2 separate regions of the Homo sapiens genome follow, and region 2 is linked to region 1. The links come from fine-mapping of genetic effects on gene expression. A gene starts in region 1. The other region holds a variant in brackets. All regions are shown on one strand. Distances are between the middles of the regions.

Region 1 (5,373 bases):
ACAAAACAAACAAACAAACAAAAAGAACTAATAAATGGTTCAATGAAGTTGCAGAATACAAGATCAAAACCAAAATCAGTTGTATTTCTATGTACTAGCAATGAACAATCCAAAAATGAAATTAAGAAGACAATGTCACTTATAACAGCATCAAAAAGAATAAAATACTTGGGAACAAATTTAACCAAAGAAGTGCAAGACCTATATATTGAAAACTATTATAAACACTGTTAAAAGAAATTAAAGGGCCGGGCGCAGTGGCTCACGCCTGTAATCCCAGCACTTTGGGAGGCCGAGGCGGACAGATCACGAGGTCAGGAGTTTGAGACCAGCCTGGCCAATATGGTGAAACCCCGTCTCTACTAAAATTACAAAAATTAGCCTGGCGTGGTGGCAGGCGCCTGTAGTCGCAGCTACTTCAGAGGCTGAGGCAAAAGAACTGCTTGAACCTGGGAGGTGGAAGTTGCAGTGAGCCAAGATCACGCCACTGTTCTCCAGCCTGGGTGACAGAGCAAGATCTGTCAAGAAAGAAAAGAAAAGAAAGAACGAAGGAAGGAAGGAAGGAAAGAAAAGAAAAGGAGAAAAGAAAAGAAAAGAAAAGAAGTACTACAAAGCTACAGTAATAGAGACAATATGATACTGGCATAGGATAGACATATAGATCAATGAAACAAAACTGAGAATCCAGAAGTAAGTCCATACATGTATGGTCAATGATTTTTAACAAGGGTGCCAAGATCATTCAATGGGGAGACAGTCTTTTTTTTTTTTTTTTTTTTTTTGAGACGGAGTCTTGCTCTGTTGCCCAGGCTTGGGAGTGCAGCGGCCCGATCTCGGCTCACTGCAAGCTCCGCCTCCTGGTCTCAGACCATTCTCCTGCCTCAGCCTCCCGAGTAGCTGGGACTATAGGCGCCCACCACTACACCCGGCTAATTTTTTTTTTGTATTTTTAGTAGAGGGGTTTCACCGTGTTAGCCAGGATGGTCTCAGTCTCCTGACCTCGTGATCCGCCTGCCTCAGCCTCCCAAAGTGCTGGGATTACAGGCGTGAGCCACTGCACCCGGCAGGTCTTTTCAACAAATGGTGCTGGAACAACTAACTGACTATCCATATGCAAAAGCATGGATTTGGACTTCTACTTCACATCACATACAAAAATTAACTCAAAATGGACCACAGACCTAAAAATGTAAGAGCTGGCACTATAAACTTTCATGCTTCAAAGAACACCAATGAAGGACATGAAAAGACAATCCAATGGGAGAAAATATTTTCAAATCATGTATCTGATGTTTCTAGTACCTAGAATATTAAAAAGGACCCTTACAACTCAACAATAAAAAGACAAATAGAGCCAGGCACAGTGGCTCATGCCTGTAATCCTAGCACTTTCGGAGGCCGAGGCGGGAGGATCACCTGAGGTTAGGAGTTCGAGACCGGCCTGGCCAACATGGCGAAACCCCATCTCTTTAATAAAAATACAAAAATTAGCCGGGCATGGTGGCGCATGCCTGTAATCCCAGCTACTTGGGAGGCTGGGGCAAGAGAATTGCTGGAACCCGGGAGGCGGAAGCTGCAGTGAGCCGAGATCACACCAGTATAAAAAGACAAATAGAGGCCGGGCGCGGTGGCTCACGCCTGTAATCCCAGCACTTTGGGAGGCCGAGGCGGGTGGATCATGAGGTCAGGAGATCGAGACCATCCTGGCTAACAAGGTGAAACCCCGTCTCTACTAAAAATACAAAAAAAATTAGCCGGGCGCGGTGGCGGGCGCCTGTAGTCCCAGCTACTCGGGAGGCTGAGGCAGGAGAATGGCGTGAACCCGGGAAGCGGAGCTTGCAGTGAGCCGAGATTGCGCCACTGCAGTCCGCAGTCCCGCCTGGGCGACAGAGCGAGACTCCGTCTCAAAAAAAAAAAAAAAAAAAAAAAAAGACAAATAGAGCTGGGTTCAGTGGCACACACCTGTAGTCCCAGCTACTTGAGAAGCTGAGGCGGGAGGATCACTGGAGCCCAGGAGTTCGAGGCTGATATAGTGCACCATGATCCCATCTGCACTCCAGCCTGGGAAACACCGCAAGACAAACCCACCCCACACACACACCCCACCCTCGTCTCAAAAAAAAAAAATTAAACCCCAAAAATATATTAAACAAAAGACATATCCCAATTTTAGAATGTGCAAAGAACTTGAAAAAACATTGCATCAAAAAAGACATACAAATGGCCAATTATCTCATGGAAATATGCTCAGCATCACTAATCATTAGAAAAATACCAATGAAAACCACAGGGTACCACTTCACACCCACTGGAATGGCTATAACTAAAAAAATGCACAATAACAAGTGTTGGTGAGGATGTGGAGAAATTGGAACCCTCACACATGGCTTGTAGGGATGTAAAATGGTGCAGTTTCTGTGGAAAACAGTTTGTCGGTTGCTCAAAATGTTAAACATACAGTTATCATAGAACCCATAAATTCCTCTGCCAGCATATACTCCTAAGTATATAACTAAAAGAAATGAAAACATGGTGTGGTCACTTTAGCCCAAAGACTCTCAGGTTTATTTTGTGGGCCCTTTGGACTGTAACTCCATAAGATCGGTACGGCGCAAGCCACTAGGACTGTTTTTTGTTTTGTTTTGTTTTTGCTTTTGTTTTGAGACAGTCTTGCTCTGTCGCTCAGGCTGGAGTGCAGTGGCGTGATCTCGGCTCACTGTAACCTCCGCCTCCCAGGCTCAAGCGATTCTCCTGCCTCAGCCTCCCCAGTAGCCGGGATTACAGGCGCGCCCCACCACGCCCGGCTAATTTTTGTATTTTTTAGTAGAGAAGGAGTTTCACCATGTTGGCCAGGCTGGTCTTGAACTCCTAACCTCATGATCCGCCCGCCTCAGCCTCCCAAAGTGCCGAACGGTTTTTGGGTTTTTTTTGGTTTTTTGGGGGGGGGGTTTTGCTGACTTTCTTGTTTTGTTTGTTGCTTGCCACGCTGCCATCAAGTGCTCACTGTCGCAAAAGAACCGTCCCCATGCAGTACTGTACTTTTCTTTTCCCTTCTGCCGTCAACCTCGGAGTAGCTTCGCTCCCAGAAGGCCTCAAAGCGCGACCAAAGAGCGTGACAGAGCGCTTTACGACAGTTGCTTTGAGGCAGTACCGGAGGAGAAAGATGGCGGCTACCTTACTAGCTGCTCGGGGAGCCGGGCCAGCACCGGCTTGGGGGCCGGAGGCGTTCACTCCAGACTGGGAAAGCCGAGAAGTTTCCACTGGGGTGAGGAAGGAATCGGGGTTCATAGGACGTGCACAAGGCCTGACGCGATGGGAAGATAAAGCCTGAGTGGGGTTGAGAGATCTGGCAGGGGTGGAGAGGAGGTGGAATGTGTTGTGCTCCAGGAATGGGGAGAGGTACCCCGAAGATGGTGGAGTGGTGCGGTAGCTTCGTAGTGGGAGGTGGAGGGTGGGCTGAAGTTTGAAATTCTGAAATCCTGCGAGGCTAGTGAGGATCTTGGGCTTAAGTACGGGATGAGTCTTTTGAGATTTGAGGGTTGGCATTCTGGTATTCTGCGGGGTGCTGAGGCCCCTATAAGATTTGAAAATGGTTCAGCGACGGACAGATTTTGTATTTTTGGAACTAGGTAGAGAGATCATTGAGGTTTGTGTCTGCTGGAGAATGTAGACTTACTCCTTTTTCCCTTTTCCCAGACCACTATCATGGCCGTGCAGTTTGACGGGGGCGTGGTTCTGGGGGCGGACTCCAGAACAACCACTGGGTGAGCTCAGGACAGATTTGTGAAAGGTCTTCCCATCTTCCTTTTCCTTTCCTGCCTGCCAGCCCACCCTGCCTGCCTCCACAGACCACTGTGGGAAGAGAGGTTTCTTCTCTCTCTGGAGATAAAGATTTGTCCCAACTTTTGTTACTTTCAGTTCCCCTCACTCGTTAGTGGAATCCTTACAAAAGTCTGTTCTCCAGCCCGCTTCAGTTTGGATGAGAATAAGCAATACTGGAGGCCAGGCACGGTGGCTCACGCCTGTAATCCCAGTACTTTGGGAGGCCGAGGCGGGTGGATCACCTGAGGTCAGGAGTTCGAGACCAGCCTGGCCAACATGGCGAAACCCCGTCTCTACTAAAAAATACAAAAATTAGCCGTGCGTGGCGGTGCGTGCCTGCAGTCCCAGCTACTTGGGAGGCTAGGGCTAGAGAATCGCTTGGACCCAGGAGGTGGATGTTGCAGTGAGCAGAGATCGCGTCACTGTACTCCAGCCTGGGCAACAGAGCGAGACTCCATCTCAAAGAAAAAGGAAAAAAAGGCAATACTGGACATCCTATCCCTGAGCCCTAAGAGAGTGGGTAGTGATGGGATGGAGGTGGAAGACAGGTGGGCTCCTTTCCTCACTATTCTGCCATCCTGCAGGTCCTACATCGCCAATCGAGTGACTGACAAGCTGACACCTATTCACGACCGCATTTTCTGCTGTCGCTCAGGCTCAGCTGCTGATACCCAGGCAGTAGCTGATGCTGTCACCTACCAGCTCGGTTTCCACAGGTGCTTGTGGGCAGGGGAGGGGCAAGTATCTGAAGGGAGTTGGAAGCTGAGGAGCTAAATAGCCTGACTTCTAGGTCTTGAAACTTTCTCTGTGACTTCCCTGACCCTCTAGCATTGAACTGAATGAGCCTCCACTGGTCCACACAGCAGCCAGCCTCTTTAAGGAGATGTGTTACCGATACCGGGAAGACCTGATGGCGGGAATCATCATCGCAGGCTGGGACCCTCAAGAAGGAGGGCAGGTCAGATCCCCACCCGACCAGAGCACACTTGAGCCAGGACTTTTATCCTCTCCCCAGCCATTTTCTTTTTCTTTCCAGTCTCTACCTCACTTATTCTTACTATTAACGTGCCTCAGACCAATAGCAGAATGGACAGGTGAATGTACGTGTGTTGGAGGGAGGATACGACTGGTGACTCCTCTCCTTCTATCTGGCAGGTGTACTCAGTGCCTATGGGGGGTATGATGGTAAGGCAGTCCTTTGCCATTGGAGGCTCCGGGAGCTCCTACATCTATGGCTATGTTGATGCTACCTACCGGGAAGGCATGACCAAGGAAGAGTGTCTGCAATTCACTGCCAATGGTGAGAGCTTAGGCTTCTGGGCCTATGAGCTTCAACCCCAACTACCCAAGCCAGGCCAGCATTCCTCATTCCTTGCAGTGATCCCGGCATCTGAATCTGAACCCAGCTTTCTTCTTTTATCCACAGCTCTCGCTTTGGCCATGGAGCGGGATGGCTCCAGTGGAGGAGTGATCCGCCTGGCAGCCATTGCAGAGTCAGGGGTAGAGCGGCAAGTACTTTTGGGAGACCAGATACCCAAATTCGCCGTTGCC
Region 2 (5,373 bases), 27 kb before region 1:
TGAGATTGCGCCATTGCACTCCAGCCTGGGCAACAAGAGTGAAACTCTGTCTCAAAAAAAATATATATATATATATTTACATATATACACACAAAAAGATTAGACAAGCATGGTGGGTGGTGAACATCTGTAGTCCCAGTTACTTGGCAGGCTGAGGCAGGACGATCACTTGAGCCCAGGAGATAGAGTTTGCAGTGAGCCAAGATCATGCCACTGCACACCAGTCTGGACAACAGAGTGAGACACTGTCTTTAAAAAAAAATGAGACTGGGCACAATGGCTCTGGCCGGGTTGTGGTGGCTCATACCTGTAATCCCAGCACTTTGGGAGGCCAAGACAGGTGGATCACTTGAGGTCAGGAGTTCAAGACCACCCTCCAACATGGTGAAACTTAGTCTCTACTAAAAATATAAAAATTAGCCAGGCCTGGTGGCCCATGCTTGTAATCCCAGCTACTTGGGGGGCTAAGGCAGGAGAATCGCTTGAACTCAGAAGGCTGAGGTTGCAGAGTCAAGATGACGCCACTGCACTCCAGCCTGCATGACAGAGCAAGACTCTGACTCAAAACAAAAGAGAAGAAAAATATTTTTTTCCAAAATGTGCATCCAGTTTTGTAACCAGATATATGAAATTTATTTAGACTTACGTCAAGACTTCCCCATTTTGGGGTTTTTATTTTACTTCATCTCTTGGTGAGTCAACACAATTTCTCTAAAAAAAAGGAGCCAAAGTGTTATTTTGAAATCCAAACATTCTCAGAAATGCAATTGTGTTGCCCTTAACATACAAAATGCAACTTAGACATGTATATGATAGTTCTACCTTTTTTGGTGGACACAGCTGCCTTACTCCTTTGTCCTCTGACATTCAGTATTTCAGAGAAGACTCTGGCCACACCAACTATTGTTTCTTTCTAAGTAGCCTTTTTAAATTCTGCCTAGATGTATCCTTTAATTCAGATATTTTGTCAGGATGAATCTATGGTCAGCTGACTTTTAATATTTTACCTGCCGTGCAGTATAACTTTCAACCCACTGACCTGAGTGGATCTATCTGCGCTCAGTGACGTCTTCTCCTAGTGCAGATGTTTTAACTGTGGTGTCACTTCCACCAGTTCTATTCTTGTTCTTAGGAGAAGCCAGTTTCCTGAATTTTTTTTTTTTTTTTTTTGAGCCAGAGTCTCACTCTGTCACCCAGGCTGAAGCGCAATGGCGTGATCTTGGCTCACTGCAATCTCCACCTCCCGGGTTCAAGCGATTCTCCTGCCTAAACCTCCTGAGTAGCGGGGATTACAGGCACCCGCCACCATGCCCAGCTAATTTTTGTATTTTTAGTAGAGACGGGGTTTCCCCATGTTGGTCAGGCTGGTCTCGAATTCCTGACCTCAGGTGATCTGCCCGCCTCGGCCTCCCAAAGTGCTGGGATTACAAGCGTGACCCACTGAGCCTGGACCTTTTTTTTTTTTTTTTTTTTGAGATGGAGTCTTGCTCTGTTGCCCATACTGGGGTGCAATGGTGCGATCTCGGCTCACTGCAACCCCCACCTCCCGGGTTCAAGCGATTCTCCTGCCTCAGCCTCCTGAGTAGCTGGGATTACAGGTGCCTGCCATCACACTTGTCTAATTTTTGTATTTTTTGTGAAGATGGGGTTTCGCCATGTTGGCCAGGCTGGTCTCAAACTCCTGACCTCAGGTGATTCACCGAGCTTGGCCTCCCAAAGTGCTGGGATTACAGGCGTGAGCCACCGCGCCCGGCCAGCCTTTTCTTTCTTAAGTTATTCTGTTCCTAGTTCCAGGAGAATTCTAGTGATGTCATCAAAAATCTTCCTGGAAATCTCTTCCAAATCCTATAGTAAATGTTCCTCCAGAGGATTCTGTTTCTTTCAGTCTTCAGGTTGATTTGCCCTTCCCTGGTTTTGAGAAAATTTTTCAGAATCCCTATAATGTTTTGTTAACATTATTAACATTATTTCATTCATCCAGAATTGTATAAAAATAATGTAATGAATGCCTGTGGACCACCCCACCCACACAACTATTTTTTTTCTCTTTATTCATCCTCAAAACAGACACCATTTGGCTGGCCGCAGTGGCTCACACCTGTAATCCCAGCATTTTGGGAGACCGAGGTGGGTGGATCACCTGAGATCAGGAGTTCGAGAGCAGCCTGGCCAACATGGAGAAACCCTGTCTTCATCTCCACAAAAAATACAAAAATGAGCCAAGCGTGGTGGCGGGCACCTGTAATCCCAACTACTTGAGTCTCCTGAACCCGGGAGGCGGAGGTGGCGGTGAGCCGAGATCACGCCACTGCACTGCAGCCTGGGCAATAAGAGTGAAACTCTGTTTAAAAAAAAATAAAAAAGAGGCACCATCTCTCAGAATCAGCTTGAGCAACTTGTAGACAAATAGGTGGCCAGCTCTTGGCCCTGCTCTCTGTCCATCAGATCAATGGCTGAATCCCCTCTTCAGGTCCACGGTTGGAAGGGCCACTATTCGGGATATGACAGTTGCTCTGGTAGTTCAACATTAGTGCTGGTGACAACCTCTCATCGGCCACCTCCTGAGGAACCAGAGTTTTCCAGTGCCTGTGCTTCTCCCTCTGGCGCTGTTTCAGAGTAACTATTCTCCATACACTTCTCTTGCTGTGACTTCTGCTTATTTCTGGTGTCAGTTGCCTCTGGCTTTTGATTGCTTCTTTCTTGCATACAACTCTCAGTTTGAAGCCACCCCACTCTCTGATGACTGTCTCAGCTTGTCTCACAGACACATTTCCCAATCATGAAGATCCAGTCGGTGGATTGGTCATTATCCAGTCAGTGTACCTCTGTTGGATGGAGTTCTCACCTCGAGAGACCTCACAGGTCGCTGGCTACATGTCTGCCTTTGGGTCAGCTACTTGTTCCTCAATCAACCAGCCCTGGCCTAGATAAGGGGGTCTGTGTTAGGAACTTGTTACTGGGCAACAAACCATCCCCCTCGACGAAGTCTTAGTGTCAAATAAATATAAGCATTTATTTCACTGATACACACATAGGAGTTGGCTGGGGGTCAGGTGATCTAGGGTGGGATCCAATGTGACCCTTTTCCTTGTATCTTTTTTTTTTTTTTCTAGATGGAGTCTTCCTCTGTCACCCAGGCTGGAGTCCAGTGGTGCAATCTCGGCTCACTGCAACCTCCATCTCCCGGGTTCAAGCAATTCTCCTGCCTCAGCCTCCCGACTAGCTGGGATTACAGGTGCCTGCCACCACACCCAGCTAATTTTTTTTGTATTTTTAGTAGAGACAGGGTTTCACCA[C/T]GGTAGCCAGGATGGTCTCGATCTCCTGACCTCATGATCTGCCCACCTTGTCCTCCCAAAGTGCTGGGATTACAGGCGTGAGCTACTGCGCCCGGCCAAAAGAAATTTTTTAAATTAGTTGAGTGTGGTGGTGTGGGCCTGTAATCCTGGCTACTAAGGAAGCTGAAGTGGGAAGACAGCTTGAGCTAGGAGGTCATAGCTGCAGCGAGCCATGATTATCTTACCATGGCACTCTAGTCTGAGTGACAGAGACCCTGTCTCAAAAAAAAAAAAAAAAGGATAATGTAAAATCTTTAAAGAAAAGGGACAGAGGCTGGGCGCAGTGGTTCATGCCTGTAATCCCAGCGTTTTCGGAGGCCGAGGCGGGGATCATCTGAGGTCGGGAGTTCGAGACTAGCCTGGCCAACATGGAGAAACCCCGTCTCTACTAAAAATACAAAATTAGCTGGGCGTGGTGTCGCATGCCTATAATCCCAGCTACTCGGGAGGCTGAGGCAGGAGAATTGCTTGAACTTGGGAGGTGGAGGTTGCAGTGAGCCATGATCGCACCACTGCACTCCAGCCTGGGCAACAAGAGCAAAACTCTGTCTCAAAAAACAAAAAAGAAGAGGAACAGAAAACATCAGAAGCAATATGGAAATGTTGTTTAAAGCATTAAACATGCCAACAGAAGCAAAACCAAATGTATCAGTCATCATAATTACCTATGAGTCAGAGACAAATAGTTGGGGAGGTTCAAAGTATTTTCTTTTTCAGGCATCCTCTGATTCAAGAGGTAAATTCTCCATGTATTTTTCTCAATCCAGTTCCTCTGTCTTATAAATAGCAGAGATTCTGGCTTTTCTCCATTTTCCACATTTCTGTAGTGGTCTGAGTGGGCCGCAAGGAGGGGCTGCATCAGGGGCCACTGGCTGGTGACACTTTCCAGGTGACAGCCTCATTGCATACCCTCTGAAGCCCTGCAGCCCTTCCTGCTACCCTCATCTCTTCATGGCACTCCCACATCCTACTTGAGCTAGGGCTCATTCTGTGGGGGCCTTCACTCTCCTGTTTGCTTCTGAGACCCAGGAGGCAGAGGTTGCAGTGAGCCGAGATCACACCACTAAACTCCAGCCTGGGTGACAGAGCAAGACTCCATCTCAAAAAAAAAACAACAAAAAACCATTAGCCAGGTGTGGTGGCACACACCTATAGTCCTAGCTACTCGGGAGGCTGAGGTGGGAGGATCACTTGAGCCCAGGTGGTCAGGGCTGCAGGGAGCCATGATCCACTCCACACCAGCCTGGGCAACAAAGGGAGACCCTGGTCTCAAAAACATTTTTTTAATTAAAAAAAAAAGAAGTCGACTGGGTGGCTTGGCTCATGCTTGTAATCCCAGCACTTTGGGAGGCTGAGGCAGGTGGATCATTTGAGGTGAGGAGTTTGAGACCAGCCTGGCCAACATGGTGAAACCCCGTCTCTACTAAAAATACAAAAATTAGCTGGGTGTGGTGGTGGGCGCCTGTAATCCCAGCTACTTGGGAGGCTGAGGCAGGAGAATCGCTTGAACCCAGGAGGCGGAGGTTGCAGTGAGCCAAGATCACGCCACTGCTCTCCAGCCTGGGCGGCAGAGTGAGACTCCGTCTCAAAAAAAAAAGAAGTTATCAAGGAAACTGCAGCACCCCAACAAAAACAGAACTTCTTTGACCTCAGAATGGAAAAATGGCAGAAGCTGATTCTCACAGAGTTGGCTCAGATCGCATGGCTGTTGCTAAATCAAACACCGAGGCTAGCAGGATAGAACGCTCTCATCAATGAGGCCTAGGTCCCGAGCCCACCCTGAGAGACAGGCAGTGGCCTCAAGAGGAGGAGACATCAATAATCAAATACCAGGAAGACGAAATGCAAGGACAATAAGAGCCCACAATCACCTCTTTAATTTCTCCCTGGGAAGAATGCTGCCTGAGAGGCTGGCAGAAACGAAGAGGCCACCACACATCTGCTCTGTGCTTCCTAGTTTACAAAATACTTCTCAGGTTGTCCCATTTAATCCTCACAAGTAGCCCACAAGGCAAGTGGCATCACTTATTTATTTATC

Alleles and levels. Positions count from the first base shown, and alleles are read on the strand shown. Sizes are in standard deviations (SD) of each study's normalised expression.
For the expression in monocytes after LPS of the gene that starts at base 3,133 in region 1, T is the high allele of the variant in region 2 and C is the other (moderate effect, 0.41 SD a copy in Quach 2016).

Evidence for each region. PIP is the estimated chance that this variant, and not a neighbour inherited with it, causes the effect.
Region 2: its variant is fine-mapped to the expression of PSMB6 in monocytes after LPS (Quach 2016, PIP 0.95).

What each region holds. Positions count from the first base shown.
Region 1 is chr17:4,793,032-4,798,404 of GRCh38, forward strand. It overlaps PSMB6 (proteasome 20S subunit beta 6), which reads left to right and starts at 3,133. Exons shown (of 6, transcript NM_002798.3): 1 at 3,133-3,265; 2 at 3,697-3,764; 3 at 4,407-4,538; 4 at 4,651-4,780; 5 at 4,978-5,122; 6 at 5,249-5,373. The coding sequence starts at 3,164. RefSeq lists enhancers at 2,892-3,490, 2,917-3,446.
Region 2 is chr17:4,765,821-4,771,193 of GRCh38, forward strand. No RefSeq gene overlaps it. Among named protein-coding and RNA genes, the nearest start is that of TM4SF5, 3.4 kb to the right of the region's middle. The variant C/T (reference allele first, on the strand shown) is at 3,297.